Regions from separate parts of the Homo sapiens genome. Here regions 2, 3, 4, 5, 6 and 7 are each linked to region 1. Evidence: fine-mapped expression QTL. A gene starts in region 1. Each other region holds a variant in brackets. All regions are shown on one strand. Distances are from middle to middle. Region 1 holds the start of PTPN12 (protein tyrosine phosphatase non-receptor type 12). Region 2 has its middle 55 kb from the start of PTPN12. Region 3 has its middle 28 kb from the start of PTPN12. Region 4 overlaps PTPN12 (protein tyrosine phosphatase non-receptor type 12). Region 5 has its middle 45 kb from the start of GSAP. Region 6 overlaps APTR (Alu-mediated CDKN1A/p21 transcriptional regulator). Region 7 has its middle 40 kb from the start of PTPN12.

Region 1 (4,266 bases):
GCGTGCACCACCACACCCGGCTTTGTATTTTTAGCAGAGACAGGGTTTCACCATATCGGCCAGGTTGGTCTCGAACTCCTGACCTCAAGTGATCCACCCAACTCGGCCTCCCGAAGTGCTAGGATTACAGGTGTGAGCCACTGCACCTGGTCTGAAGTGCATATTTCTGGAGTGGATGTATTAGTTGGATTATTTTAACAGAAATATTTTCCTTTTTTTGAAGAAGTAAATAAACTATATCCTGTTACACCTATTTTCTTTTCTTTTTTTTTTTTTTGAGACAGGGCCTCACTCCCGTCGCCCAGGTTGGGGTGCAATGGTGTGATCACAGCTCACTGCAACCTCCGCCTCCCGGGTTCAGGTGATCCTCCCATCTCGGCCTCCCAAAGTGCTGGGATTACAGGCGTGAGCCACCGCGCCCGGCCTACACCTATTTTCTTCAATGAGTTTTTCACTAAATTCCATAGTGCTCCTAACTTTCATCTGAGAAAGTATTCTACCACTGATATTTCCTATTATAACCAAATTCGCTGACCAATCTGCTCTGTAAAAAAAGGTTTGTGGGTATAAATGACGAAAGTCAGTTCATGGATCAAATCCTTCAGTTCTGTCACATTGTGAGAGGCCACTGTTGTGAAAGTAAAATAACTTCTAGTTACGGCTCTGCTAAGAATACGCTGGGGGATGTCAGGAAGTCGCTTTATTTGTAAAATGATGAGTTAGACCAGAATATATTCTCTGATAGAAGTTTACAAAGATGAATAAAGATTTATAGGCTAGGCGCGGTGGCTCACGCCTAAAATCCCAACACTTTCGGAAGCTGAGGATCCCTAGTGCACAGGAATTCGAGATCAGCCTGGGCAACCTGGTGAGACCCCCTTCTCTACCAAAAATAAATAAATAAATAAATAATAAATTTTTAAAATGTATTAGCTGGGCTTGGTGACGTAGTGAGGCAGGAGGATGCCTTGAGCCCAGGAGTTCAAGGCTGCAGCGAGCCGTGATCATAGCACTGCACTTTGGCATGGGAGATAGAGCAAGACCTTAGCTCTAAAAAAAAAAAAAAAAAAAAATTAATAGATTTATAAAGTCCATTCTATGGAGGAAAGTCTCTTATTCAGTTATGAACTGCTGCGAACCTAAAGGCAGGAAGGCAAATTCCCTTCAGTTCGGCAAACACGAAGACCCCACATTCGCGTCGTCTGTGAAGAAGGCACTCCGAACCTCAGGCGCTCACTCGCCAGGTTTAAGAGGATGAGCAAAGAATAAAAGTCCTCTCACCCAGGAAGCGTTTCGCTTCCCTTAGCTGGAGCCACGCTCCAAGGTGCCAAAGCCTAATTGCTGTCCACTCTCACCAATCCGTTAGCAAGATGAGCATCTACCTGCTGCGAACGTGGCGGTGACACTACTACAGCTCCCAGCCTGCCTCCCGCCCGCCCCCACTCCTGGACTCCACAGACCGTGACTTGTAGTCCCAGCCCACGGCTGGCGGCGGTGCGGGACTCCTGAAAACTGCTTTTCCTCCCTAGTAGGCGGTGAGACCGCAAATTCCATCAGAATCCTACTCTGACCCACTAGGGCTTGGCCCGCTCAGAGTCGCATTCCCTCCTCCAAATGAACCAACTCTCCTCCCAGCGATACTCCGACCTCTGAGCACCCCGGGCGGGGCCACGCCCCGGAAATGGAGTCAGGTCTCCAGGCCGCCCGCTGAAGTGCCTTCCAGCCACTCCAAGCGGGGCTGGGGCCGGCGGGGCGGGCTTGGGGGCGTGGCCGGGAGGCGGGCGGGGATGCATCTGCGGGCGCAGCGCTTGGGGCGGAGCCGCAGCGCGAGGCCGCGCATCTGGGTGGCGGCGGGGACGCGCCCGTGGGGAGAGGCGGCTGCGGCTGCGGCTGCGGCTGCTGGCGGGGGGTGGGGGGGAGGAGGAACCGGGAAGGGGGGGCAGGGCGAGCGGAGAGCTAGCTGTGTTCCTGAGGCGGCGGCGGCGGCGGCGGCGGCGGCGGCGTCTCCGACGGAGGAGGAGGGCGGGGAAGGAGGATGGAGCAAGCTGGGGGTTGGGGTTGGCGCTAGCGCAGCGGCTCGCCTGGTACTGTGGGAGAGCGGCGGCTGCTCCTGGAAGTTGTGGTGTCGGGAGCCCAGCCGGTGCCGCCGCAGCCGCCGCCTAGGGCGGTGGGGAGGAGGAGGGAGCCGCGGGGCTTGGCGGGGTCGGGAGGGAGGGACGTGCTGGGGGAACGAGCTGGGGAAGACGGAGCGGGCTCTGTGCCGGGCGGGCGGGCGGCGGGGGGGCCAGCGACCGCAGCCGGGGGGACGCGGGAGGATGGAGCAAGTGGAGATCCTGAGGAAATTCATCCAGAGGGTCCAGGCCATGAAGAGTCCTGACCACAATGGGGAGGACAACTTCGCCCGGGACTTCATGGTGAGTCTCTCCCCTCGCTGTCGCGTTTTCTTGCCGGCGCCGGAGCCCATCGCCGCCTCTCCCGGCCGGGCCGCCAGTGCTTTGTGTACCTCTGTGAGGAGAGGGGCGGAGGGGGCGCGCACCAGCCGGGTGAGCCGGGTGGTCTCGGAGGCCAGCGGGAGGCGAGAGCGCCTCCCCCCGTGGCCTCCTTTCTTCTCCCATGTTCGCGACCCCCGCGCGGGTTCCCGGGACGCGAAGGGAGCGGCCGCGCGGCCGAGCCCGCAGCCTGCACCGTGGCTCGCGACCACCTATTGTTTACCGGGCCGGGAGCCGTAGGCAAGTGAGGTGCAGGCCGGGGGGGGGGGCTCGCGTTTCCACACCTCCCCGCGCAGTTCGCTCCTCCCAGGAGGGTCGAGGCAAGGTATCTGGCTGTGACCGGGAGGAGTGCAGATCGTGGCTGACAGAGGAACGGGGGTATTGAGGTTGGCACTAACTCCTGGGATCCCTTTGCTCTAGCTGGTCTCAAAGCGGGCAGGGTAGGACTTAGGCCGTTTCTGGGGTCGCAGTCATGATCTCCAACGCTTGGGAAAGGATTGCCCATAAGGAATCTCATGGGTTTACCTAATTTCCATTTACCCGCGTCCCGCTTCTCCTCTCCTGAGGCCCAGGTTTGAGGTGGTCTTGGGGTCCGTGTGACTATAGGTTCAGGGGATAAGTGTGGGTGGGGGAATTATCCTGAAGGAAGCCAGCCGACTTCGGACTCCCCAGGGGATATTGCCGAAGGCGGAGGGGATGTGACTATCACTTCCTATCCGGGGTGGGGGTGGGGAACTTGGGAACAATAGTCCTGGTGGGGCGGAGGCGACGCTACGGGCCGAAGCCCTGAACTGGGAGATAACCTTCCCAGCGCCCCCCCGCCTCCGCCACCCCCTACTTTCCGCCCTCTGCTTGTGCAGGCAGTCTTGAGAGGAGGTGAAGGTTAAAAGTCTTGTTCATGAAATTGCTCTAGATACACTATTGCTTTAGCACACTGTGAGGGGGTCAGATCCGAAGGCGTGAGACCAGAAGTCGACTTCCTACGTTACCCACCCCCCCAACCCCCGCCCTTTTTATTTTTCTGCTGGACAATGTTCCCTCTAGGGTTGTTTCCCGGCTTAGGAGGCGGTGGTTGCGGCTGCTGCTCCTACGGATATTGCGCAAGACTGGGGCGTTGGAAACCCTGTAGGTCTGGGGAATGAAAAAGGAAGTGGGACTTTGGGAAGTGGTTGCTCCTTAGTCTTGGCGGGGGTTGGGAATGGGAAATAAGCTGGGGAAAATTTTTATCTTGGGTAAGGTACACCTCGAAGAATAATCACTTAATTCTGAAATCTGATTATGAGAAGGATACACAGTTAATGCCTGTAAAATGAATGGGCAGCAAACATTGGCTAGTTTTTATTTTTTGTTTAAAAAGTACAGTAGTTTTTATGGTGGAGGTGATATGACTTAGTAGTGAATACTTTTTCACGTTTTAAAGAGACTGGTCTAGTAAAGCTTTAGCGTTAAATTTTTAACAGCTTATAAAATAGGCCCTTGACCATACACAGTATTATACTAGCATCGTTGAGCTTTGTGATTCCCGCCTCCCCAGACCAATAATAGAGGACGGAAGTAAAGTTTTCTCAGTATCTTTTGAAGATTGAAAATATAAGTTAAATAATCTAACTTATTCCTTATTAAAAATAAAAATATTGCTTATATTTAAACATTTGCTCTTGATATTTAGCCTATGTATTTTTGAAAAATTACTTTTTGATCTGAAAGGGTTAAGGAAAACGGCATTTTCCCTTTTTACTATTGAGAGTTTTTATTGTCTTGGTATCTTTTGAATGGT
Region 2 (4,266 bases), 55 kb before region 1:
GCCTCCCAAAGTGCTGGGATTACAAGCACAAGCCACCGCACCTGGCCCTTTCCCTCTCTTTTTAAAAATACATTTTCCAAATCCATTTTTTTGAGATTAGACTTATTCTATTTTTCTTTAAGGGATTAATGTTTGAAAAGTTAGTGAATTAAGGCCAGGCGCGATGGCTCACACCTGTAATCCCAGCACTTTGGGAAGCCGAGGCAGGCGGATCACGAGGTCAGGAGTTTGAGACCAGGCTCGACAACATAGCTTAACCCCGTCTCTACTAAAAACACAAAAATTAGCCAGGCATGGTGGTGGGCACCTGTAATCCCAACTACTTGGGAGGCTGAGACAGGAGAATCGCTTGAACCCGGGAGTTGCAGGTTGTAGTGAGCCAAGATCATGCCATTGCACTCCAGCCTGGGTGACAAAAGCAAAACTCCATCTCAAAAAAAAAAAAAAAAAAAGGAAAGTTATTGAATTAAGTACAAATTGAAATTGAGTTCAAACTTAGTTGATTTACATTTTTCTCAAAATAGATTTAGAAGGCAGAACACAAAGCATAAAAATAAATCATCTGGCCGAGCGTGGTGGCTCACGCCTGTAATCCCAGCGCTTTGGGAGGCTGAGGCGGGTGGATCACCTGAGGTCAGGAGTTCAAGACCAGCCTGGTCAACATGGTGAAACCCCGTCTCTACTAAAAATACAGAAAGTAGCCAAGCATGGTAGCGGGCATCTGTAATCCCAGCTGCTTGGGAGGCTGAGACAGGAGAATCTCTTGAACCGCAGAGGCGGAGGTTGCAGTGAGCCGAGATTGCACCACTGCACTCCAGCCTGGGCAACAAAGAGCAAAACTCTAACTCAAAAAAATAAATAAATAAATCATCTACTTCAGAGGAAATAGATGACTATCAGTCATTGTGTTAAAACTATAGAAATTTGATAGAGTTCAAAATAACATTTAATATGCTGTCTTGTCAGGACCATTCATATACTCCTCTTTCACTCCCACCTTCTGCCCTAGATCAAGAACAACCCCATTCACTCCTAATCAAATGACCAACCTGGCCTTTGGCCTTAATAGGAAGTAAAAGTGTCTCTTCCGGCATTGTATCAGTGGTATGTGCCGCACCTACCACACCTGCAGCATAGTCTTAGGATGAGGAAGAAGTTTGTGGGTAGCCCAGGTGGGTAGAAAGGAGATAGAGAGAGCCACATGTAAAGAACAGTTGCATCTGATGTCACCTGTTCCTGGCTGAACCTGAATTTTATCAAGACCATAAAGTCCTCTGAGCCCTAGCTGGTTCACAACATATTTTCAATCTAGGTTTTTTTTTTTTTTTTTTATCACTAAGTCCACAGAAATTTTTACAATCCTTGTCAGGTGGTAAATATTCTATTAAACCGTGTTTGTATGGAAATAACCTGATTTGGATATAGAAGAAACAGAATTGAATTAGTTGAGCAACAGGTTTGCTTGGTTCTCATGGTTACATTGCACAACCTGGGCAAGGCATCCCATGACATAAAAGATTGTTATAATTCAACCCGGAAATCCGGCCAGACCTCCCAGGTACTTACAAAAGCAGTTCAGCCTCCACAACATAGGAATGATTTATCTGATTTCATGACACATGGCCTCTTGGATCCTGTGACCATTTCTCAACTGGACAATATATTAAATAAATTAGCACTTGCTTTTTGATAGTTTCATAAAGAAAATTTATTGGTTTTTTAAAAATAAAAACAGAATCCAAAATCATAACTTAAAATGAATGCATGCACACAAAGTTGAAAACATAGAAATGATGCAACAAGTAACAGTACCATTTGTATGTTGTTTGAAAGAATAGCATATTTTAATTATTACATGTAAAAAATTTCACATTCCTAATAAAGAGGGTAAAAGTGAAACATTCAAGACCTCCTTTTATCCTTTTTTGTCTTTTTGAGACAGGGTCTCTTGCTCTGTTGCACAGGCTGGAGTGCAGTGGCATGATCACAGCTCACTGCAACCTCAACCTCCCAGGCTCCAGCAATCCTTCCACCTCAGCCTCCCAAGTAGCTGGAACTACATGCAGGTGCCATCACACCCAGCTAATTTTTTTATTTTTTTGAGACAGAGTTTCATTCTTGTCGCCCAGGCTGGAATGCAATGGCGTGGTCTCAGCTTACTGCAACTTCTGCCTCCTGAGTTCAAGCGATTCTCCTGCCTATGCCTCCCAAGTAGCTGGGATTACAGGCACCCACCACCACGCCCAGCTGATTTTTTTTTTTTTTTGTATTTTTAGTAAAGACGGGGTTTCACCATGTTGGCCAGGCTAGTCTCGAACTCCTGACCTCAGGTGATCTGCCTGCCTTGGCCTCCCAAAGTGCCGGAATTACAGGCGTGAGCCACCATGCCCTGCCAGTGAAACCC[C/T]TTCTCTACTAAAAATACAAAAATTAGCTGGGCGTGGTGGCTCGCGTCCGTAGTCCCAGCTACTCGGGAGGCTGAGGCAGGAGAACCGCTGGAACCAGAATCTCAGAGTGAGCCGAGATCATGCCACTGCACTCCAGCCTGGGAGACAGTGAAACTCCATCTCAAAAAAAAAAAAAAAAAAAAAGAAAAAAAGAAAAAGAAAAGAGTCAGGAAAGTAGCACATTTTAAAATGAGTCTAATAGTGTTACGTAGAAATAATATAAAATTTACCAATTATGAGGTTATCCTTCGTTGGTTCTCAGTATTGGTTAGGGCTTAGTTATAGCAATGTTTCTGCTTTGACTTTTCACATTTAAAAATGTACACATTTTACAGAAATATAAGAAAAATAAATGCTTGTAGATACGGTACAGATTAATTGGAGATTCCGGGAAAAGCAACCAAAATCTTCAAAGGACATATAATCAGACCTATAAGAACAAATTTTAAAAACTGAGTTTCTGCTCTACTCTGCATTTCAGAACTGTTAGCATGAACTGTGATAAAACAGAAAGCTTTTCAGATGAAGCTATGCAAATATTTATAGAATCAAAGATAATTTGGACTATAGTATCTAATAGTAATAATAGACATTATTGGCTTCATGAATATAATCTGCTAAACACTTTATTATTACTTTTTTTTTTTTTTTTGAGACGGAGTCTCGCTCTGTCGCCCAGTCTGTTAGCGCAGTGGCGCGATCTCGGCTCACGGCAAGCTCCGCCTCCCGGTTTCACGCCATTCTCCTGCCTCAGCCTCCCGAGTAGCTGGGACTACAGGCGCCCGCCACCACGCCCGGCTAATTTTTTTTTTAATTTTTAGTAGAGACGGGGTTTCACCGTGTTAGCCAGGATGGTCTCAATCTCCTGACCTCTTGATCCACCCATCTCAGCCTCCCAAAGTGCTGGGATTACAGGCGTGAGCCACTGCACCCAACCTTTTTTTTCTTTTTGACTGAGTGTCACTCTGTCGCCCAGGCTGGATGTAGTGGCGCAATCTTGGCTCACTGCAACCTCCACTTCCGCGGTTCAAGCTATTCTCCTACCTCAGCCTCCCGAGTAGCTCGGACTACAGGCGCATGCCACCACGTCTGGCTAATTTTTTGTATTTTTTTTAGTAGAGACGGGGTTTCACTGTGTTGGCCAGGATGGTTTCAAACTCCTGACCTCAGCTGATCCACCCGCCTTGGCCTCCCAAAGTGCTGGGATTACAGGCGTGAGCCATCGCTCCTGGCCCTGTGATTTCTTACAAAAGTGTTCTGTAGTTCTCCTTGTAGAGATCTTTCATCTCCTTGGTCGTATTCCCAGGTATTTTATTCTTTTGTGGATATTGTAAATGGGATTGTATTCTTGAGTTGGCTCTAATTTTTAACATAATTGTTGTGTAGAAATGCTACTGATTTTTGTACATTTAATCTTGTATCCTGAAACTTTACTAAAGCCATTTTCCAGTTCCAGGAGTCTTTTAGCAGAGTCTTTAGAGTTTTCTAGGTATAGAATCATATCGTCTGCAAAGAGAGATAGTTTGACTTTTTCTTTTCCTATCTGAATGTCTTTCTTTCTTTCTTTTGCCTGACTGCTCTGGCTAGTATTTCCAGTACTATGTTGAATAGGAGTGGTGAGAGTGGGGATTCTCGGTGAGAGTGGGTATCCTTGTCTTGTTCTCAAGGGGAATGCTTCCAGTTTTTGCCTGTTTAGCATGACGTTGGCTGTGGGTTTCTCAGAGATGGCTCATTACTTTAATGTATGTTCCTTTGATGCCTCTAGCCTGTTGAGGGTTTTTTAATCATGAAACGATGTTAGATTTTATCAAAAGCTTTTTCC
Region 3 (4,266 bases), 28 kb before region 1:
CTGTACCTGGCCATGCTTTTCTCTTTCTTATAGGTAAGCAAAGTATGGCAGTTCATGGAAACCGTCTTTATAAGAGAGCTGATGGGTCCTTTGCCCCCGATTATTCTTTTCTTCCTTCAGACAGACTGGAATATGGTTGTGATGGCTGGAGTAGCCCAGCTGAAACAAGAGGTGACCTTGGGAATGGAAGCTACAAGAGTACCAGGCCACCTCAGCTCTAGACTAAGCCATTGTTTTTTGTTTTTTTTTTTTTTTTTTTTTTTACTCACAGCTGAAGCTATTCCTGACTGATACAGGAATCTAGTGGTAAGTTCTTTTTTCAGTGGGTTTAAGGTTGGTTTCATATCTTTAAGCTGGACAGATTGTCAGATAAATGACTTAAGAGTCAGAACTAATTACCTTTGTACAAATGGAAGGACATCATGAATCTGTATCATTGTAAGTAAAATACTATGACTTGATGATGACTATTTGCTGAGATACTGTGACTTTTCTAATATATGATGATAATAACAGTAATGACACTTATATTCTCCACGGCTGTTGAGATTAACACTTTTGGCCATAGTACATTGATTTAGGTTTTAAAACATGACACTAGAAAGACTAAAATAATTAATTTAATTAATAAGTTTAAACATGAGAAAAAACAAACTAGTTAAATTTACTCAATTTGGTCAAAATGTCTGTTTTCAATATGCTATATCCCTTGATAGTTTTCTGTTACCTGAAGATATTTTCAAGTTGTCTTTTTATTTTTTTAATTACAGACATACATAGTTGTTTTATAGTCTGTGGATCTGTTTCTAATATCTGCTGTTTCCTTTGAATCTTGCTTACAGGGCCAGACTTCCTTATGTACCTCAATATCTTTGTGCATTGCTCATTGTAATTGAAAATTTGTTTTATTTTTATTTGGGGGGGGGGGCGGGGTTAGGCTCCATTCTACAAAACAGAATGAAAAGGCCAAGATGGGCGAATTACCTAAGGTCAGAAGTTTGAGACTAGCCTGGCCAACATGGTGAAACCCCGTCTCTACAAAAGATCGAAAACTCAGCCAGGCATGGTGGCAGGTGCCTGTAATCCCAGCTACTCGTGAGGCTGAGGCAGGAGAATCACTTGAACCCAGGAGGCAGAGGTTGCAGTGAGCAGAGATCACACCACTGCACTCCAGCCTGGGTGACAAGAGCAAGACTCCATCTCAAACAAAAAAACAAAATATCAACCCTGGCCAGGCACAGTGGCTCACGCCTGTAATCCCAGCACTTTGGGAGGCTGAGGCAGGCGGATCACGAGGTCAGGAGATCAAGACCATCCTGGCTAACATTGGTGAAACCCCGTCTCTACTAAAAATACAAAAAATTAGCCAGGCGTGGTGGCGGGCACCTGTAGTCCCAGCTACTCAGGAGGCTGAGGCAGGAGAATGGCGTGAGCCTGGGAGGCGGAGCTTGCAATGAGCTGAGATCACGCCACTGCACTCCAGCCTGGGCGACAGAGTGAGACTCCGTCTCAAAACAAAAACAAAAACAAAACAAAAAAACAACCCCATTAAAAAATGGTCGAGTTTCCATGGTGAGATGGTCAACAAGCCTGTAAGTTCCTCAGCTACGACTACCAGGTACCTCGGGTTCCTCCCTCCTCCGAGAGACCGCCGAGGTGCGGGCTGTGAGAGAGGGAGCGTGGAGCCTCCGAGGCCGAGGACTCGGTCCCAGTTTGGACAGATAGAAGATCCTGCCGAGTGCCTG[T/C]GATTGCAGGCACGCGCCGCCACGCCTGACTGGTTTTGGTGGAGACGGGGTTTCGCTGTGTTGGCCGGGCCGGTCTCCAGCCCCTAACCGCGAGTGATCCGCCCGCCTTGGCCTCCCGAGGTGCCGGGATTGCAGAGGGAGTCTCGTTCACTCAGTGCTCAATGGTGCCCAGGCTGGAGTGCAGTGGCGTGGTCTCGGCTCACTACAACCTACACCTCCCAGCCGCCTGCCTTGGCCTCCCAGAGTGCCGAGATTGCAGCCTCTGCCCGGCCGCCACCCCGTCTGGGAAGTGAGGAGTGTCTCTGCCTGGCCGCCCATCGTCTGGGATGTGAGGAGCCCCTCTGCCTGGCTGCCCAGTCTGGAAAGTGAGGAGCGTCTCCGCCCGGCCGCCATCCCATCTAGGAAGTGAGGAGCGCCTCTTCCCAGCCGCCATCACATCTAGGAAGTGAGGAGCGTCTCTGCCCGGCCGCCCATCGTCTGAGATGTGGGGAGCGCCTCTGCCCCGCCGCCCCATCTGGGATGTGAGGAGCGCCTCTGCCCGGCCGAGACCCCGTCTGGGAGGTGAGGAGCGTCTCTGCCCGGCCGCCCCGTCTGAGAAGTGAGGAGACCCTCTGCCTGGCAACCACCCCGTCTGAAAAGTGAGGAGCCCCTCTGCCCGGCAGCCGCCCCGTCTGGGAGGTGAGGAGCCTCTCCGCCCGGCAGCCACCCTGTCCGGGAGGGAGGTGGGGGGGGTCAGCCCCCCGCCCGGCCAGCTGCCCCATCCGGGAGGGAGGTGGGGGGTCAGCCCCCGCCCGGCCAGCCGTGCCATCCGGGAGGGAGGTGGGGGGGTCAGCCCCCCGCCTGGCCAGCCGTGCCGTCCGGGAGGGAGGTGGGGGGGTCAGCCCCCTGCCCGGCCAGCCGCCCCGTCCGGGAGGTGAGGGGCGCCTCTGCCCGCCCACCCCTACTGGGAAGTGAGGAGCCCCTCAGCCCGGCCAGCCACCCCGTCCAGGAGGGAGATGGGGGGTCAGCCCCCCCACCCGGCCAGCCGCCCCGTCCGGGAGGGAGGTGGGGGGGTCAGCCCCCCGCCTGGCCAGCCGCCCCGTCTGGGAGGGAGGTGGGGGGGTCAGCCCTCCGCCTGGCCAGCCGCCCCGTCTGGGAGGTGAGGGGCGCCTCTGCCCGGCCGCCCCTACTGGGAAGTGAGGAGCCCCTCTGCCCGGCCAGCCGCCCCGTCTGGGAGGGAGGTGGGGGGGTCAGCCCCCCCCCCGGCCAGCCGCCCTGTCCGGGAGGGAGGTGGGGGGGTCAGCCCTCCGCCCAGCCAGCCGCCCCGTCTGGGAGGTGAGGGGCGCCTCTGCCCGGCCGCCCCTACTGGGAAGTGAGGAGCCCCTCTGCCCGGCCAGCCGCCCCGTCCGGGAGGGAGGTGGGGGGGTCAGCCCTCTGCCCGGCCGGCCGCCCCGTCCGGGAGGCGAGGGGCGCCTCTGCCCGGCCGCCCCTACTGGGAAGTGAGGAGCCCCTCTGCCCGGCCACCACCCCGTCTGGGAGGTGTGCCCAACAGCTCATTGAGAACGGGCCAGGATGACAATGGCGGCTTTGTGGAATAGAAAGGCGGGAAAGGTGGGGAAAAGATTGAGAAATCGGATGGTTGCCGTGTCTGTGTAGAAAGAAGTAGACATGGGAGACTTTTCATTTTGTTCTGCACTAAGAAAAATTCTTCTGCCTTGGGATCCTGTTGATCTGTGACCTTACCCCCAACCCTGTGCTCTCTGAAACATGTGCTGTGTCCACTCAGGGTTAAATGGATTAAGGGCGGTGCAAGATGTGCTTTGTTAAACAGATGCTTGAAGGCAGCATGCTCGTTAAGAGTCATCACCAATCCCTGATCTCAAGTAATCAGGGACACAAACACTGCGGAAGGCCGCAGGGTCCTCTGCCTAGGAAAACCAGAGACCTTTGTTCACTTGTTTATCTGCTGACCTTCCCTCCACTACTGTCCCATGACCCTGCCAAATCCCCCTCTGTGAGAAACACCCAAGAATTATCAATAAAAAAATAAATTAAAAAAAAAAATGGTCAAAGGACATGAACAGAGACTTCTCAAAAGAATATACACATGTGGCCAACAAGCATATGAAAAACACTCAGTATCACCAGTTAATAGAGAAATGCAAATCAAAATCAAAACCAGGGTGAGATACCATCTCGCACCAGTCAAAATGGCTATTTTTAAAAAGTGAAAAAATAACATGTTGGTGAAGTTGTTAAGAAAAGAGAATGCTTATACACTGCTGGTGGAAATGTAAATTAGTTCTGCCACTATGGAAATTAGTTTGGAGATTTCTCAAAGAACTTAAAACAGAACTACCATTCAACCCAGTAATCTCATTATTGGGTATATATCCAAAGGAATATAAATTATTCTACCATAAAGACACATTTCCTATCTCAAAAAAAAAAAAAAAAAGACACATGTACTCACATATACTTTGCAGCAATTTTCACAATGGCAAAGACATGGAATCAACCTAGATGTCCATCAACAGTGGAC
Region 4 (4,266 bases), 73 kb after region 1:
GGTCAAAATACTAATCCCATAGTGCCTCTATTTCTTTATCAGAAAATAGGGGTCATAGTAGTAGTAATGCATAAGAATTAAATAACTTTTGTGAAGTTCTTCAGAACTATGTGGTAAATTGTAAGTACTCAGTTTATTGTTAGTGTTGATTACTGTTGCTGTTGTGATTGTTGTTCCTACTACTGCTTTTTCCAAGAAATAGTGTTTGATACTGTGGATGATACAGAGATAAATAAGATACAGCCTTCATTATAGATTTGAAAAACAAGTCTCTTCATTATGTATACATTTGATTCTTTTGCTGGTTCCATAATGTGTTCATTTCTAGAGAGGCGCCTTTAATCCTTCATAGCTTTATAGTTTCCATGAATTGTTCATCTTTGTCTTGTACAGAGTAGAATTAATAAAATGTTTATTTTTTCTTTTTCTTCCTTCTTCCCCTTATTTCTCTTTTTTCCCTGCCATCTCTCCATTTTTTATTGTTGCAAGGAAATATTTACATGTTAAACAGTTCCTTAAAAAGCCCTCTGGGGTTAAATATTTTTTTCCTCAAAAACTATAATCATCTAATTCTCAAATGAAAATGCTTAAGTGAACAAAATTTAACTGGAATTCGATCACATTTTAACATAAAAGTCAAAGATTAAAATTGGAATGAGAAGGGACACATAAATGAATGCTAGCAAACAAAACAAACATTTGGTCATTTTAAAAGTTGTGTATTTTGGATAGGTGCCATGGCTTATGCCATAATTCCAGCACTTTTGAAGGCTGAGGTGGGCGGATCACCTGAGGTCAGGAGTTTGAGACCAACCTGGCCAACATGGTGAAACCCCATTTCTACTAAAAATACAAAAATTAGCCAGGCGTGGTGGCCGGCGCCTGTAATCCCAGTTACTTGTCAGGCTGAGGCAGGAGAATTGCTTGAACCTGGAAGGCAGAGGTTGCAGTGAGCCGAGATTGTGCCATTGCACTGCAAACTGGGTGACAGAGCAAGACTCCGTCTCAAAAAATAAAATAAAATAAAAGTTGTGTATTTTGAACATAGTTCTCTCTCTCTCTTTTTTTTTTTTTTTTGAGATGGAGTCTCACTCTGTTGCCTAGGCTGGAGGGCAGTGGTGTAATCTCGGCTCACTGCAACCTCTGACTCTCAGGTTCAAGCGATTCTCCTGCCTTAGTCTCCCGAGTAGCTGGGATTACATGCACGCGGCACCATGCCTGGCTAATTTTTGTATTTTTAGTAGAGATGGGGTTTCACCGTGTTTCGGGCTGGTCTCAAACTCCTGACCTCAGGTGATCCGCCTGCCTTGGCCTCTCAAAGTGCTGGGATTACAGACATGAGCCACTGCACCCGGCCTAGTTGTTAAGTCTTCATGTAAAAATCTTGGCTGGGCGCGGTGGCTCACGCCTGTAATCCCAGCACTTCGGGAAGCCGAGGCGGGCGGATCACGAGGTCAGCAGATTGAGACCACCCTGGCTAACACGGTGAAACCCTGTCTCTACTAAAAATATAAAAAAAATCGCCAGGCGTAGTGGCGGGGGCCTGTAGTCCCAGCTACTCCGGAGGCTGAGGCAGGAGAATGGCGTGAACCCGGGAGGCGGAGCTTGCAGTGAGCGGATATCACGCCACCGTACTCCAGCCTGGGCGACAGAGCGAGACTCCGTCTCAAAAAAAAAACAACAAAAAAAAAACCCAAAAATCTTATGATGTATATAAGGACTTCCAAGCAGCAAACCTGGAAATCATTTTTAACCCTTCCATCTTAATCACTCCAAAATATTCTTGTTGATAACAGTTATGATATTTCTGCTTCTGTAAACCTCCGCCAGTTTCTCACTCTTTCAGACTGTCCTCTTCCTTGATACAAAAATTGTGTGAATATCAGATCTTCTCATGTCAACATTGCCTATTGCAGTAGTCGCAATTCCATATACA[C/T]AAAAGAATTGTCTAGGTCGTTTCATAATTAGTTCCCCAACTTGGAGCCAAAGGATCTATATTTTTACCTAGGTCTTTTAGCTGGTCCTTATATAGCCAATCCAGGAGATACTGGCCAATAGAATAAATTCAGTCTCTTTATTATGTTCACAGTCTGATCCTAAATATCCTTATCTTCTCTCCTCCTTTGAGTACCTTCTCCTTCTTTTAGTCTTAGGCTTTGTTTACATCAAACTTCTCAATTCCCCACATAGATTATACATTGAATCTGCTGTGCTTATGTATATTTCCTTCACTTTTTATGGGATAACCTTCTTTTGATATCCAACTATGTTGTAGCTGCACACACTCAACAGTTAGCCATAGCCTCTTTATTCCCTGTATACTGCAGTCATACTTTGGCTGGACATAACTGTCTCCCCATCTTGAATGCTGAGGGTCAAGAACAGTTTTGTTTCCACAGTGCCAAGCACAGTGTCTGAGATGCATTAAGTGGTGTTCAATAAATGTTTGCAGTAAACCAGCAGGTATTTAAGTTTTATGTGAAAAGCTGAAGAAGATTTTACTATTTTCTGAATAGATACACAAAGTTGATGTATTAAATTTTCTGTTTTAGAAAATACCAGAGGAATTTAATGTATTTAATTTAATACAAGAAATGAGAACACAAAGGCATTCTGCAGTACAAACAAAGGTATAGTTGTTTGTTTCCCTTTATAAACTGCTATTTTATAAATGCTTTCTTCTTTTTTAAAATGTTGTTTTCATTTTGTTTTTTAATCATTTTTCTCCTTCATAGGAGCAATATGAACTTGTTCATAGAGCTATTGCCCAACTGTTTGAAAAACAGCTACAACTATATGAAATTCATGGAGCTCAGAAAATTGCTGATGGAGTGGTAGGTGTTCTTGGTCTATTAATTTTAGGAAACTTTTACTCTTTGTTAAGATGTAATATTTAGCCTTTTTTTTGTTGTCTTGTGTTTTGTCTAACATGAGAAGAATATCCAGGACACTTAACATTTTTACTTAAACTCATTTCCTTCTTATTCGTATCTGTATTATGATGGCTATTTAATGACTCCGATATAAGGTAAATTATGTTCTAAATGAAATAAAGTTAGGAAAGATCTCATGTCAAAAATCATATAATTCGTTAATGTTTTACTTTTTTAAAAAATAATTGCATTGTTCTCTTTACTCTTCCCTTCCACCCCCACCCAAGTAATTCTGCATTGATTCTACTTGAATTTCATTTTGTATAAAGTGTTTTAGTTATTTGTGTATATGCTTTTCTTTTCTTTTCTTTTTTTTGAGACAGAGTTTCACTCTTGTTGCCCAGGCTGGAGTGCAATGGCACAGTCTCAGCTCACTGCAACCTCTACCTCCCAAGTTCAAGTGATTTTCCTGCCTCAGCCTCCTGAGTAGCTGGGATTACAGGCGCACGCCACTGTGCCCAGCTAGTTTTTGTATTTTTAGTAGAGACGGAGTTTCGCCATGTTGACCAGGCTGGTCTCGAACTCCTGACCTCAGGTGGTCTGCCCGCCTTGGCCTCCCAGTGTGCAATGTGCTGGGATTACAGGCATGAGCCAACACTCCTGGCCTTGTGTATATGCTTTTCAGTTAAGCAGAATTAAAGAGCCACAGTTAACTCCCTTTTGTTGTGTTATAATTCAGTGTTATTTTAGCCTTGTAACATCTTACTGGATATTCAACTTCTAGACCTGACAAAAACACTGTATTCTCTTAGTATTCTCATTTCTGCCTTTGTTTTCTAACCAATTGTCTTGCTTCAATTCTATATATAACCACCTTGTCCCTGAAGGTGCTGAGATTTTTTTTTTTTTTTTGTAGAATTTGTTTACATCTTTGTCATTGAGTCTATGATAACTATTACATTGTTAAACCAAGTATGAGAAAATAAGTTGCAAAATTTATAACCTTCATTTTCCTTTTCTCCCTTTAAATGGTTTTGTCAGTTCCCAGAATATTTGTTTGAATTTTCTTGGTTTTCCAAATGACAGATTTATTACCAAATGCTGATCTCAGTTTGTTAGGATAATCTAATATCGGTCCATGAGTTTTAGGAAATATGCATTTCTTTTATTAGCCAAGTGACAATTTCACGTTTTTAAGTTTTATGTGACATCGTTCTTATTCCTTTATTAACATAGGAATTATTGTGCAAGGAAATCCTCCTACAATGCCTTTAGCTTAATTAAATCCTATTATGACATGCTCTGAATCTAGCCAAATATTTTATAATGTAGAATCAAATGTGTTTTTGTTTTGTTTTATTTTGTTTTTTGAAATGGAGTTTCACTATTGTTG
Region 5 (4,266 bases), 76 kb before region 1:
TATCATAATTCTTAACTTACAGATGAAGAAACCCAGTCTCAGGGAGGTTAAGAGACTTACCCAAGGGCATCCAAGCCACTAGCAAGAGCCAGAGCTGGAAACAGAACCCTCACTTCCTGGTCCACTGCTTTTTTTTTTTTTCTTAACTAAGTGTATTTTAATGCTATAGCAACTATCTTTCAGGATCAAGATAAAAGGCGTTTCAGAAATATTTAAGATTGCTATTATTTAGCAATTAACAACATAAATAAAATAAATGTCATTAATGCATTAAATCATATACAAACCCAATAAAATTGTAGTATTCTTTCAAATTCATTATCTCCTTCAATGAAACAAAGCTTCCTATGCCAAGTTCCAGCTTAGGAAGGATTTGTCACAAAATAAAAGTACATTGTTGATCTAAGGAATAGGATCGAAAGGACTCTGAAGAGTCAAGTGATGGAATGGCGACCTAAACACCCAACACGATGGAGTCCACTGCTTTTTATACTGTACCAACCTGCAGTCTTTTCCAGGCATAGAAGAGGCCACAGTAGGAGAATGGTTTCCTTTGTGTGGGAATTAGCCAGGTCTGCAAGACCAAAGGTAGAAAGCAGTACCTATGGAAAGGTACCAGCTTGGGAATAATAGTAAATATTGGGAATTATGGTAAATATTGTTGTCCCTATTTAACGTTGGAAAAAACAAGGAACAGAGGTTTGTTCTAGGTAAACAGTGGCTCTTCAATTATTCAGGAGTGGCTTGCCATTTAGGCTTACCTTGATCTTTTTCACTATTCTCTTTTATGGCTCTTGCTTATCTCCTGGCCTGATGGTTAGCACCTCCACCAGAGGGCAGGAAGAACAGGAAGAGAAGCATTGCAACCGGTTTGATCAAAAAGTTGCAATAAGAAAACGTAAGTCATTATCTTAATTTAGGCTTTGGAGTCTTTTAGATTTCAGTTACTAATGTGACCTTTGCCAACATTCTCCTAGATAAATCTACAATAATCAATGCAGTAAAATGATTTCCTATAAATAAAAATCATCTACTTCTAATTGTATTGTTCAATACAATATTACATATATTGAACCTTATATAACATTCAAATTTATTTAGAACTTATTACATGCACTAACTTTGTATAACATTTTTAACCTGTTTGGAATTGGTGTGAACTTCTCCAAAGGCATATCAAAAGCTCCGGAGCTTAGAAAATAAAATCTATCCTGGCCGAGCACGGTGGCTCACACCTGTCATCCCAACATTTGGGGAGGCTGAGGCAAGTGGATCACCTGAGGTCAGAAGTTCGAGACCAGCATGGTCAACATAGTGAAACCCCGTCTCTACTAAAAACACAAAAATTAGCCAAGCGTGGCGCTTGAACCAGAGAGGCAGAGGTTGCAGTGAGCCAAGATCGCGCCGCTGCACTCCAGCCTGGACGACAGAGTGAGACTTCGTCTCAAAAAAAAAAAAAAGAAAGAAAAAAGAAAAAAAGTCTCCTCCACAGCAACTTCCTCAGCATTTCAAACAACAATCAGGGACTTCTGTTGTTGTTGTTAAGGGCAGTCTTCTAGGCTTCAAGCACCAACAGATGTTCCTCCTTCATGGCCTTGAAGGTTGTCAGTTTGCATGTATCAGAAGTGCAAAGGTATATTAAAATAAAGAACAGCACATTTAGAATTAAGGAAAGTCTGGATCATTTAGTGTTCTGATTCCAGGTGACATCTGGCACCCATTACCGTACCCGTGCTTTACTCTGCATGGAGAGAAAGTGCTGGAGTGAAAGTCTGGCCCTGGAGGTGCAAGAAGGTGCCCTACTGTGCTGCTTCTGCCTGACAGAAGCCTTGAGGGGCTGAGGGTGTGGTTTTTGCATTCCTGTGGAGTGGTTCAGGCTGACCTCAACTGCATGAAGGACCTCTACACAATGAGTACAGACTAGGGTACTTGATGAATCTTTATGGTATGGATTTTGCTATTCAAACCAACCTGGAAATTTTCAGGAAGCTCAAGTCATTAATGGGTGGAAACAACCTGGAAACTGAGACGATGCTAGTCAATAAGGAAGAAAAGTGGAAAAGAGGGCATGCAGTTATTAGTGGAAAGCTGACAAACATGGGGACTGTCAAAATGTGTCCTCCACTCGAAACATCTCTTTTTTCAGGCAGTGCCTATTTTGTGGTCAGTAGGGAGGAC[G/A]TGGGGTATATGCTAGAGAATGAAAAAAATTTAAAAGTTTATGGAGTAGGCCCAAGACACATACAGCAAGTATCTCTAGGCCACTGTTCAAAGGATTCCCGAAGTCCCCAGCTCACTCTCCTTAAGCCGTAAGTATGACTCTTCTGACATGCATGCAGCTTCTAGGTTTGTCAGGTGGCAGCACTTTGAAGCACTCTTTACCCACCTGCAGTAGGGCCCATGTGCGCTCAGTGTGCCTTTTCGGAGCTGGCACCTTGAACTGGACACTGTGCAAGCACCATTTGTTTGCCAATAAGCCTGACACGGGTGGTGACCTCTTTGCCATCCAGTGTTTAGATGAGCATCTGAGACATACTTTGGAGACTTTAAAACACTGGCCACTATAGGCAATTTTAGTAATAAGAAGAAGAATGCGCAAAATTGACACTATCTGGTTCCTCTTATTTGTCAATAAGCACCAGGAAAATTGTACAGGGCCCTCTTTGGAGCAAGGACTCTAAGTCTTTGTGTCAGAAAAGCTGCCTGGTTTCTGCAGAGCACAGTTGGCTAGAAAGGTTGGAGCATTAAACTTTCATCTAGAGTTAAAGTGAGGGGGAAGTATAATAAAAGTAGCTGTGAAGCCAGGGCCGGTAGCAAGTCATTCTGAAGAGAATGGGCTGAGGCGGCTGGAGAAGAGGCTGACACAAAACAATCAGCCTGTCGAAAGAGCTCAGGGGCTGGATGCAGTGTCTCACCCTGGTAATCCCAGAACTTTGGAAGGCTCAGGCAGGAGGATTGCTTGAGCCCAGGAGTTCTAGTTGCCAGCCTGGGCAACACAGGGAAACCCTGTGTCTACAAAAAAATTTGTAAAAAATTAACTGGTCATGGTGATGTGTGCCTGTAGTCCCAGCTACTCAGGAGGCTGAGATGGGAGGATTGCTTCAGACCAGCAGGTTGAGCCCCCAGTGAGCAGTAATCATGCCATGGCACTCCAGCCTGGGTGACAGAGACCCTGTCTAAAAAAAGAAAAGAAAACGCCAGGTGCAGTGGCTCACGCCTGTAATCCTACCACTTTGGGAGGCTGAGGTGGGCAGATCACCTGAGTTTGGGAGTTCAAGACCAGCCTGACCAACATGGAGAAACCCCGTCTCAACTAAAAATACAAAATTAGCCGGGCGTGGAGGCGCATGCCTGTAATCCCAGCTACTCAGGAGGCTGAGGCAGGAGAATCGCTTGAACCCAGGAGGTGGAGGTTGTGGTGAGCCGGGATTGCACCATTGCACTCCAGCCTGGGCAACAAGAGCAAAAACTCTGTCTCCAAAAAAAAAGAAAAGAAAGAAAAAGAGCTTAGGGACTTAACAACGTTAGAAGATTTCACCTGTGCCAAAATTATTTAGAGAATTTTAAATGTGACAATTGTCCTGGTATGAATACATTTACAGCAAAAAATAATCATAAAGATATAGTTTATCTCATATATTTGTTAAAATAGAGATTTGATTTTACTCTAAACAATCCTTGTAAATAATTTCTTTTCTGCTATACCATTGTGCTGTGTAGTGTGTCTCTGTATATCATCCCAGAAAGCTTAAATTGGCTTGATTTAATAGTAAAGAATTTTTTAATTAAAAAAATTTGAACTAACAATTGTCATAATTAATCTCATTTTAAAGTTAGTCCATGTTGAACTTTTCTGGACTATTTATGCATTGATTATTTTAGCATACATTTACAGAATGCCTACTGCGTGCCAGGCATTATAATAAGTGCTGAGGGAAAAAGATAAAGAAGACGCAGATCTTTCCTCTAGAAGGTCTCAGTCTAGAGAAAGACAGACAATTGCATTACAGAGCAGTGAAGAAGTTAAGATTTAGAGTAAGACGAAGTATGCAATGGTGTATGCATCAGAATACGCAACAGGCATAATGGGCTAACACCAAACCGGAGGAGTGGGTACAAATCAAGAAAGGAGATGGTCGCTGAGTAAAGGATGAATAAGAGTTTCCCACATGAAGTGAGGAAAGTCAGTCCAAGAAAGAGGGGCAGTATCTGCAGAGTTATGAAAGTGTGATGACAAAGCGAGGTGAGTATGGGGAAGTAAAATTGGTT
Region 6 (4,266 bases), 130 kb after region 1:
TGGGGAAAAAAGGAAAAAAAAAAAAACACCCTGCAACAATTTTATTAGTAAATGAAGAAAATAATACTACAAAATCATTTTGTTAAATATTCACTTAAGGCTGGGCATCATGGTGGCTCATGCCTATAAACCCAGCACTTTGGGAGGCCGAGGCAGGGGGATCACTTGAGCCCATGAGTTCGAGACTACCCTGGGCAACATAGTGAGACCCCATCTCTACAAAAATTAAAAATTAAAAAAATTATTCTGGTGTAATGGTAAGTGCTTGTAGTTCCAGCTACTAGGGAGGCTCAGGCGGGAGGATGCTTGAACCTGGGAAGTCTTGGCTGCAGTGAGCTCTGATAATGCCACTGCACTCCAGCCTGGGCAACAGAGTGAGACTGTTTCAAAAAAAGAAAAGCCTTGGGTCCAGTGGCTCACACCTATAATCCCAACTCTATGAGAGGCTAAGGTGGGAGGATCACTTAAGCCCAGGAGTTCAAGATCCGCCTAGGCAACAAGCGAGACACTGCCTCTATAAAACATAAAAAATTAGCTGGGCAGGCGTACACCTGCAGTCCCAGCTACTTGGGAAGCTGAAGTTGGGGGGGAGGATCACTTGAGCCCAGAAAGCTGTGGCTGCAGTGAGCTGTGTTCGCACCAATGCACTTCAACCAGGATGACAGAGTGAGACCCTGTCAAACAAAACAAAAAACAAAAAGAAAAACAAAAGATGTTCACTTAATGTTAAGAATTCAACAATAGTGAAATCAGTTATGTAAGAATTGCCAAAATGTAGCATATCTAATTTTTAAATATCATGATTTCTCCCCCAGCCTTTACTCACAACACCAATAAAACAAGTACACATTATTTGAAAAGGCATAAAATTTATTGTTAAAAACATAAAATTGGTAGATTCCCTCCATGTTATTGATATAAGGAATATTTTCACTTTCCTTTGAGAGTTTTCACTTGGCTATCATAACTGTTAGGACCCTACTAACAATGTTCAGAGACTACTGTTTTTGTGTACTGTAGATGTTGATGCACTCATTCACAATTTTCTCTTCTGTGGGTATGGGTGAAGTTTCCTTTATTTATTGATTTTTTTAGAGATGGGGGTCTTGCTTTGTTGCCCATGCTGGAGTGCAGTGGCATGATCATACCTCACTGCTGTCCCGAACTCCTGGGCTCAAGCAATCCTCCCGCCCCATGGGTGAAGTTTTAAAAAGTGAATTTGAAATACAAAAGTAATTCAAAATGGCCATAAAAGTAGGCTGTGGTTTATGTATAACTCCCTGCATGGAACTCCTTTCTCTCTCAGGAAATTATATTGGAATGCATGTGAGAAAGTGATTTCTAAAATGCCTCATAATGGTCTGTGTGGGTATACATACATATACACAGATAAATAATTCAAAACTTTGGTACCTTATTGTAGATGTTTGTTCCTTGAACATCTTGCATACCAAGATAAATTATTTTGGATCACCTAATATCAAAAAGTGACATACCCAAACCAAACCAAAACAAAAAAACAAAATGTGGATAGGCATGGTAGCTGACGCCTGTAATCCCAGCACTTTTGGAGGCTGAGGTGGGAGAACTCAGGAGTTTAAGACCAGCCTGAGCAACATAGCAAGACCTCGTCTCTGCTAAAGAAAAAATAAAATGGGAGGTGGGGTGCCAGCCACAGTGGCTGATGCCTGTAATTCTGGCACTTTGGGAGGCCAAGGCAGGTGGATCACTTGAGGTCAGGAGTTCAAGACCAGCCTGACCAACATGGTGAAACCCCATCTCTAGTAAAGAAATACAAAATTAGCTGGGCATGGTGGCACACGCCTGTAATCCCAGCTACCTGGGAGGCTGCTTGAACCCAGGAGGCAGAGGTTGCAGTGAGATTGCACCATTGCCCTACAGCCTGGGCAACAAGAGCGAAACCCCGTCTCAAAAAAAAAAAAAAAAAAAAAAAAGAAACAAAAAAGTGACATACCAATGTGTTATTTCACTAATGTTGCAAGTGCTGAGCAAGAGGACATCTGAGCAGATGATGTTGATGAGGTATCCTCTGAATGTGAGATTTCCTAGGGTGAAGGTAAAACAAGCGCTAAGGGGACTTTTACATAGGTTAGGGTACTTACCTGTCTGGAAATACTGCAGTATCTGAGTGAAGAAGTTCAATGAGAAAATAATTGTTAAAGCTAGTCTAAATGCACCTTATGCCAACCATAGTTACCGTGAGAGTTATTGGGAACATCTATTTCTCCGTAACCAGGAGACAATTGGGAACTTGGCTTTTAGCACATTTTACTTTTTTTTTTTTTTTTTTTTTTTGAGACGGAGTCTTGTTCTGTCACCAGGTTGGAGTGCAGTGGCACGATCTTGGCTCACTGCAACCTCCAGCGGCTCACTGCAACTTCCGCCTTCCGGGTTCAAGCAATTCTCCCGCCTCAGCCTCCCAAGTAGTTGGGACTACAGGTTCATGCCACCAAGCCGGGCTTACTTTATTTTTTTTTTAA[G/A]TTAATTAATTTTTTTTTTTTTTTTTTTTACTAGAGACGGGGTCTCACCATGTTTTCCAGGCTGGTCTCAAACTCCTAGGCTCAAGTGATCCTCCCGCTTCAGTCTCCCAAGGTGCTGGGATTACAGGTGTGAGCCTGTGTGCCTGGCCACATTTTACTTTTCTTAGAGCATATTTAACACTTGGGTTTATATTTCACTATTTGTGTATCTTTCTCTCCTTCCTAGATTGTAACATCCCGAAGGGCACTGGTTGTGTATTTTTACTCTTAGAATCCCCCACAGTGCCTCACATCCAGTGTCCAGGTTTGTTTAGAATTTGGAACTGGGGAAGAACCAAGGAAGAGGCCCCAAAGATGGACACTAATGCTTTTTTTTTTTTTTTTTTTTTTAAAGAGACATGGTCTCACACTGATGCCCAGGCTGGAATGCAGTGGTGCAATCATAACTCACTGCAGCCTTGAACTCCTGGGCTCAAGCAATCCTCCTCTCTGTCTCCTGAGGAGTGTGCCACTATACCTGCCTTATTTTTTAAACTTATTTTTTGTAGAGACAGGGTTTCACTATGTTGCCCAGGATGATGTTGAACCCTTGGCCTCAAGCAATCCTCCCACCTCCAGCCTCCCAAAGCACTGAGTTGTAGTTGTGAACCACCACACCCAGCTCTCTTCTTCTATAAACTATGCCTGAGATAGCTGCTTTTGGGAGCATTGTTGGTGTTTGCCAGTTTCTAAGCATGATTCTCCAGCCAGCTGAAAATCCTCTGATATAGTTCTGACAAATTCCCCTTTGCTTACATTAGCTGAAATTGGTTTCCCTTGCTTACAACCAAAGAACTGTGATAGCAGAAAACAAAGGCAGTTGGCCCGGCGCCGTGGCTCACACCTGTAATCCCACCACTCTGGGAGACTGAGGCAGGTGGATCACCTGAGGTCGGGAGTTTGATCTCCCAGCCTGGCCAACATGGTGAAACCCTGTCTCTACTAAAAATACATAGTTAGCTGTGCATGGTGGCACGCGCCGGTAGTCCCAGATACTCTGGAGGCTGAGGCAGGAGAATCGCTTGAACCCAGGAGGTGGAAGTTGCAGTGAGCCGAGATCGCACCACTGCACTCTAGCCTGGGCCACAAGAGCGAAACTCTGTCTCAAAAAACAAAAACAAAGAGAAAACCAAAGGCAGCCATCTTTCTCCGGTTTTCAGCAATCTCTTCTGGTACCTCTCCATCTAAATCTGTCTTTCCAGTTCCCACCACCAAAGTACTTGGAATTGTTCAAGCCTTAGTTCTTGAGGCCCCAAACACTACATCCACATTGTTCATGGGGCAATTTTTAAATAAAAAATGTGTGAAAGAATTCCTCTTAGAAATTTAACATGTAACTTTTAATATGCTACTGAATTGCAGCAAACATGCGGAAATACTGGCAAAGACAGCTGTAGATGAAACAGCCAAGGGAGAGCCAACAATTATGGTTGGTGTTAAGTTGGATGAATTGAAATAAGAGACAAATACTTCATAGAATTGTATTAAGGCATATGCATGAAAAAGGAGGGAAGCAATTATTTTTGCTTTATTTGGCACTGGGCAGGCTTCAGTTGGAACAAACTATATTTAATTTTACATGTCATACTATATAAAGAGAAAAAACTTGGAGACTGTTCAGAGAACAGCAACTGATGAAAGGTTTGTGAAATTAGACCTATGAGAAATTGTGAAAAGAACTGGGCATGTTCAGTCAAATGCAGGACATCCAGGTGTGATGAATGGT
Region 7 (4,266 bases), 40 kb before region 1:
AAGACTTTGGAGGACTGTTGGGAGGACATGATTGGTTTTGAAATGTGAGGACATGAGATTTCGGAGGGGCCAGGGGCAGAATGATATGATGTGTCCCCACCCAAATCTCATCTTGAATTGCAACTCCCACAATTCCAATGTGTCGTGTGAGGAACCTTTTGGGAGGTAATTGAATCAATGGGGGCAAGTCTTTCCCATGCTGTTCTTGTGATAGCAAATAAGTCTCATGAGATCTAACGGCTTTAAAAATGGGAGTTTGACTGCATAAGCTCTCTCTTTGCCTGCCACCATCCACATAAGATATGACTTGCTCCTCCTTGCCTTCCGCCATGATTGTGAGGCATCCAAAGCCATGTGGAACTGTAAGTCCAATAAACCTCTTTATTTTGTAAGTTGCCCAGTCTTGGGTATGTCTTTATCAGCAGCATGAAAACAGACTAATACAGCAGCCTATCATAATGATTAAGAGTACTGTGTAGAGCCTCCTGGATCATTTAGATGAACATACTTTGATTTTCAATGTGAGTGAAAGAGGAAGCATTAGAGGGTTCAAGTAGAGAAATGAAGTGATCTGACTTATAAAAGGATCACTGGATGCTCTGTGGAGAATAGATAGTACTGAAGCAAAGACAGGAACAAGAAGACCAAGCAAAAAATGGTATGATCAAGAGGTGGTGATGATTTGGAGCTGGGAGTGGCAGTGGAGGTAGCAGGCAGTGGACTTCAATCTTTAGCATCTGAGGCAAAGACAGCAAACAGCCTATAGAGAATGTTCAACCAGCTCCCACAATTACAGAAGGTCAGATCCCTTTAATAAATCCCTTTCTTAATAAATAGAAGAGGGAGAGAGGAGTGTGGGGGGGACAGGAATAGAAGATGGGAAGGGAGAGGGAATATTTATGTGTGTATATATATATATAATACATATTATATTTATGTATGTATGTATCTCTCCTCATAATTCTACTCTCTGGATCCTGAATGATACAGGAAGCGAGGAAATAAAAGAAAGATAATCTAATCACTGATTTGCTGGGAGTAGGGAAGTCTAAAGGAGATGGAAGAATTAGGCATGACTGAATTGGATGACTGGATGGATGGTGGTGGCATTCATGACTCATGTAGTTTTGTTGAAGCTTTTTACTTTTAAAGTGCATGTCTTCACCTCGCTGTAGGTAAAAATTATCTATAGATTTTATGAAAATTTTAGTTGAATATAGAATTTAATGTGTATACATCTCAGAGAGTAAATTAATAGTAAGTATAACCCTTCCTTAGGGCAGGTGGATATGCACGTTATATATAAATACTTAAGGACCATCTAAAGATGAGATATGTTCATGAAAATTCTAGGGCATGTACAGAACAGGCATATATGTCATAACATCAGTAAGTACTGCCTGAATAAATGAAAATAAGAGATCTCAGAAGGTTTGTGAGTCTTAAAAATGTGTTGTATTCTATATATATATATATATATATATATATATTTTGTTTACTACATGGGATACTCCAAGAGGGACAGAAATTACTAAGTCTGTTACTGTTCACATTACCCCAAAATGACAAAGTCAATCTGCATTTCTTCAGCTTTCATAGAAATCTATTTAACATTATGTTCTTAAACTTTTGCCAAAAGCCTATGTGGAAATGACCACATGAGGAATGCTTTGGTATTTTTTATAAAATTGCAATTTGATGATAATTGTGTTTGTTCAGCGTCCTTAACAAGATCTATGTGGTAAATTCTTGTTAGAGTTGAATGCTAGGCAATATTTCTTTCTTTCTTTTTTTTTTTTTTTGAGATGGAATCTTGCTCTGTCACCCAGGCTGGAGTGCAATGGCACGGTCTCGGCTCACTGCAACCTCCGCCTCCCGGGTTCAAGCAATTCTCCCTGCCTCAGCCTCCCAAGTAGCTGGGATTACAGGCACCCACCACCATGCCCAGCTAATTTTTGTATTTTTAGTAGAGACAGGGTTTCGCCACGTTGGCCAGGCTGGTCTCGAACCCCTGACCTCAGGTGATCTGCCCACCTCGGCCTCCCGAGGTTTTCTGCTAAATTTTAACAGCCATTCACTCTTAAGTTTTCAGGTTAGTAATTCACTATCCCTACACCTTCCAGTCCTACCACCTTATTCCTAAACTGAATGTTGTTCTTTTTCTCTTGTGTTTTTTTAAAAAAAATGACTCTATATTTTATTATAAACTACTTCAAATCTTTTCAGAATGAATACAGATAAATAATTATACATTGTGAAACTTAATCTAAATTAAAATTTTCTTAATTTAGCAATTCTTATAATAGAAGCTAAAATTACGTCTGGGTACATAATGTTAAAGCTTAAATTTGAAGAAAACTCTTGATAAACAATACTCTAACAGAAGAGGTAAATGCTGGGAATGTCTGTTTATTTAGTAATCTACTGCCATACTGTAGTGGCAGTATAATGGTTGTTAACGTCAAACATGTCAAACAACTC[C/T]GAATGGAAATATGCCCACCGTTAACAGGATGCCACGTATTCCAAATACTCTATTTCTTTAGTTATTGCTATAAATCATTTTATTTTACACCAAAATTTTCAAAAATCTTAATTCTTCCCTGGATTTATAGTAGAAAAAAATAAATCTGAAATATTTCTGGGTGTGGTCTCTGAAGGTTTTATCTGGATGTAGTCTTGTGAGGTTGATTTTGATTAACTGAATATTTGAAGCCATCTTGAAATATGATCCTTGTCTGTCCAAGAGCTATGTAAATTTTTGTTGTCCTTGAGAACACCCCAGTGATCACTTTATTGGAGCATTCTCCTCGACTCAGCCTTAGTGACATGCATGCGTCAGAAGGGCTTTAGGTACAGAAGCCACTGTGTAAGAACTAGAGCACCTGTGCACTCACACGTAGACATTTCCATGATACTCTTGGTTCTAATAAAATTAGAAGTCAAATCTTCTGATCACATCATTTGTGAACTCTGAACTGGCTACATATGAATAAGAGAATATCAAGCATTAATACGAGTGGTGGGAAGTATAAATGCAAGAACAAAAATGAGAAGAAATTGCCCTCTGAGTGCTGACACCAGATCATTTTTGGCCTCTCTTAAATAAGCTAAGCCTCTTCTGGGCCAGTTCCAAGAGCACCATGAAAGAAGGCCAGTTCTAAAATTAATACTCTGCTGATCATTTAATCATTTCATAAAAATTGAATGATCAAGTGATTGAAAATAAATGGGCCAGGCGCAGTGGCTCACGCCTGTAATCCCAGCACTTTGGGAGGCCGAGGCAGGCGGATCACGAGGTCAGACAGAAGATCAGAGACCATCCTAGCTAACATGGTGAAACCCCGTCTCTACTAAAAATACAAAAAATTAGCCGGGCGCGGTGGCGGGCGCCTGTAGTCTCAGCTACTCCGGAGGCAGAGGCAGGAGAATGGCGTGAACCCGGGAGGCGGAGCTTGCAGTGAGCCGAGATCGCCCCACTGCACTCCAGCCTGGGCGACAGAGTGAGACTCCGTCTCCAAAAAAATAAATAAATAAATAAAAATAAAAATAAATAAATAAATTATCTTCATTTTCTTTTTGGCTTTCTATTCAGGAACCCATGTTACTTAAGCAACTCTATTCTTGCAAAAGAAAGTCAATCATACCCCTGACTTAGAAAATCATTAAAACACATACATGTGCTGAGAAAAGTATGCTGGTGAGGAATACCTGAAAGATATGATATCAATTCATTCCTTTAGATAAGCAGTCACAGACACGGATTAATTTAGCCCTTGGAATTATTTTGTTTGACCCACACAGTATTTAAAAATAATTTAGCCAACACTGAAAAATTGAGGTGTCAGATATAGAAGATCTGGCAACATTGTAATGGTATCCCCACACGGCAACAACTGCTGGAGCTAAAACATGGCTGCTGCTCCATTTAGTTAGGGCCGGGGTTTTCCAGTGGTCACAATCCGCATACACACACTCATACACACGCACATGTACACCATCATCTCATAGGCAGCAGGCTTTACTCACTAAATTACTTACCTGGCCCCTGTAGTCATCTGCATTTGTGATTCCTATAAATATCCTAGTCAGTCAGATCAGCAGAGAACTGCATGCCAGGATCACATCATGCTGCTGCCGTTTGTGTCAGTATTATTTTTACCAGTTTTACTCTGGTGGTTTTCATCAGCCTATATTTAGGGATATTAGCAAACAACCTTAAAACCTCTGTATTCAGCTATAGTTAGTGTAGACTGCATGTTCTTTACA

The links. PIP is the estimated chance that this variant, and not a neighbour inherited with it, causes the effect.
Region 2: its variant is the best candidate, but not a certain one, in a credible set for the expression of PTPN12 in caudate (GTEx, PIP 0.67).
Region 3: its variant is the best candidate, but not a certain one, in a credible set for the expression of PTPN12 in T cells (TOPMed, PIP 0.76).
Region 4: its variant is the best candidate, but not a certain one, in a credible set for the expression of PTPN12 in whole blood (TOPMed, PIP 0.58).
Region 5: its variant is the best candidate, but not a certain one, in a credible set for the expression of PTPN12 in whole blood (TOPMed, PIP 0.58).
Region 6: its variant is the best candidate, but not a certain one, in a credible set for the expression of PTPN12 in monocytes (TOPMed, PIP 0.54).
Region 7: its variant is the best candidate, but not a certain one, in a credible set for the expression of PTPN12 in whole blood (TOPMed, PIP 0.69).

What each region holds. Positions count from the first base shown.
Region 1 is chr7:77,535,232-77,539,497 of GRCh38, forward strand. PTPN12 (protein tyrosine phosphatase non-receptor type 12) reads left to right here and starts at 2,064. Exons shown (of 18, transcript NM_002835.4): 1 at 2,064-2,414. The coding sequence starts at 2,316. It overlaps LOC124901681 (a long non-coding RNA gene), which reads right to left and starts at 1,718. Exons shown (of 3, transcript XR_007060395.1): 1 at 1,140-1,718; 2 at 1-1,050. RefSeq lists enhancers at 1,144-1,193, 1,364-1,583 and silencers at 1,654-1,953, 2,204-2,413, 2,554-2,603.
Region 2 is chr7:77,480,646-77,484,911 of GRCh38, forward strand. No RefSeq gene overlaps it. Among named protein-coding and RNA genes, the nearest start is that of PTPN12, 55 kb to the right of the region's middle. The variant C/T (reference allele first, on the strand shown) is at 2,405.
Region 3 is chr7:77,506,812-77,511,077 of GRCh38, forward strand. No RefSeq gene overlaps it. Among named protein-coding and RNA genes, the nearest start is that of PTPN12, 28 kb to the right of the region's middle. RefSeq lists an enhancer at 1,875-2,850. The variant T/C (reference allele first, on the strand shown) is at 1,746.
Region 4 is chr7:77,608,213-77,612,478 of GRCh38, forward strand. PTPN12 (protein tyrosine phosphatase non-receptor type 12) reads left to right here. Exons shown (of 18, transcript NM_002835.4): 10 at 2,553-2,630; 11 at 2,736-2,834. Among named protein-coding and RNA genes, the nearest start is that of PTPN12, 73 kb to the left of the region's middle. The variant C/T (reference allele first, on the strand shown) is at 1,937.
Region 5 is chr7:77,459,588-77,463,853 of GRCh38, forward strand. It overlaps the pseudogene GCNT1P5. Among named protein-coding and RNA genes, the nearest start is that of GSAP, 45 kb to the left of the region's middle. RefSeq lists a silencer at 4,222-4,266. The variant G/A (reference allele first, on the strand shown) is at 2,179.
Region 6 is chr7:77,668,670-77,672,935 of GRCh38, forward strand. All of the region lies in intron 1 of APTR (Alu-mediated CDKN1A/p21 transcriptional regulator), which reads right to left. Among named protein-coding and RNA genes, the nearest start is that of APTR, 25 kb to the right of the region's middle. The variant G/A (reference allele first, on the strand shown) is at 2,502.
Region 7 is chr7:77,494,844-77,499,109 of GRCh38, forward strand. No RefSeq gene overlaps it. Among named protein-coding and RNA genes, the nearest start is that of PTPN12, 40 kb to the right of the region's middle. The variant C/T (reference allele first, on the strand shown) is at 2,482.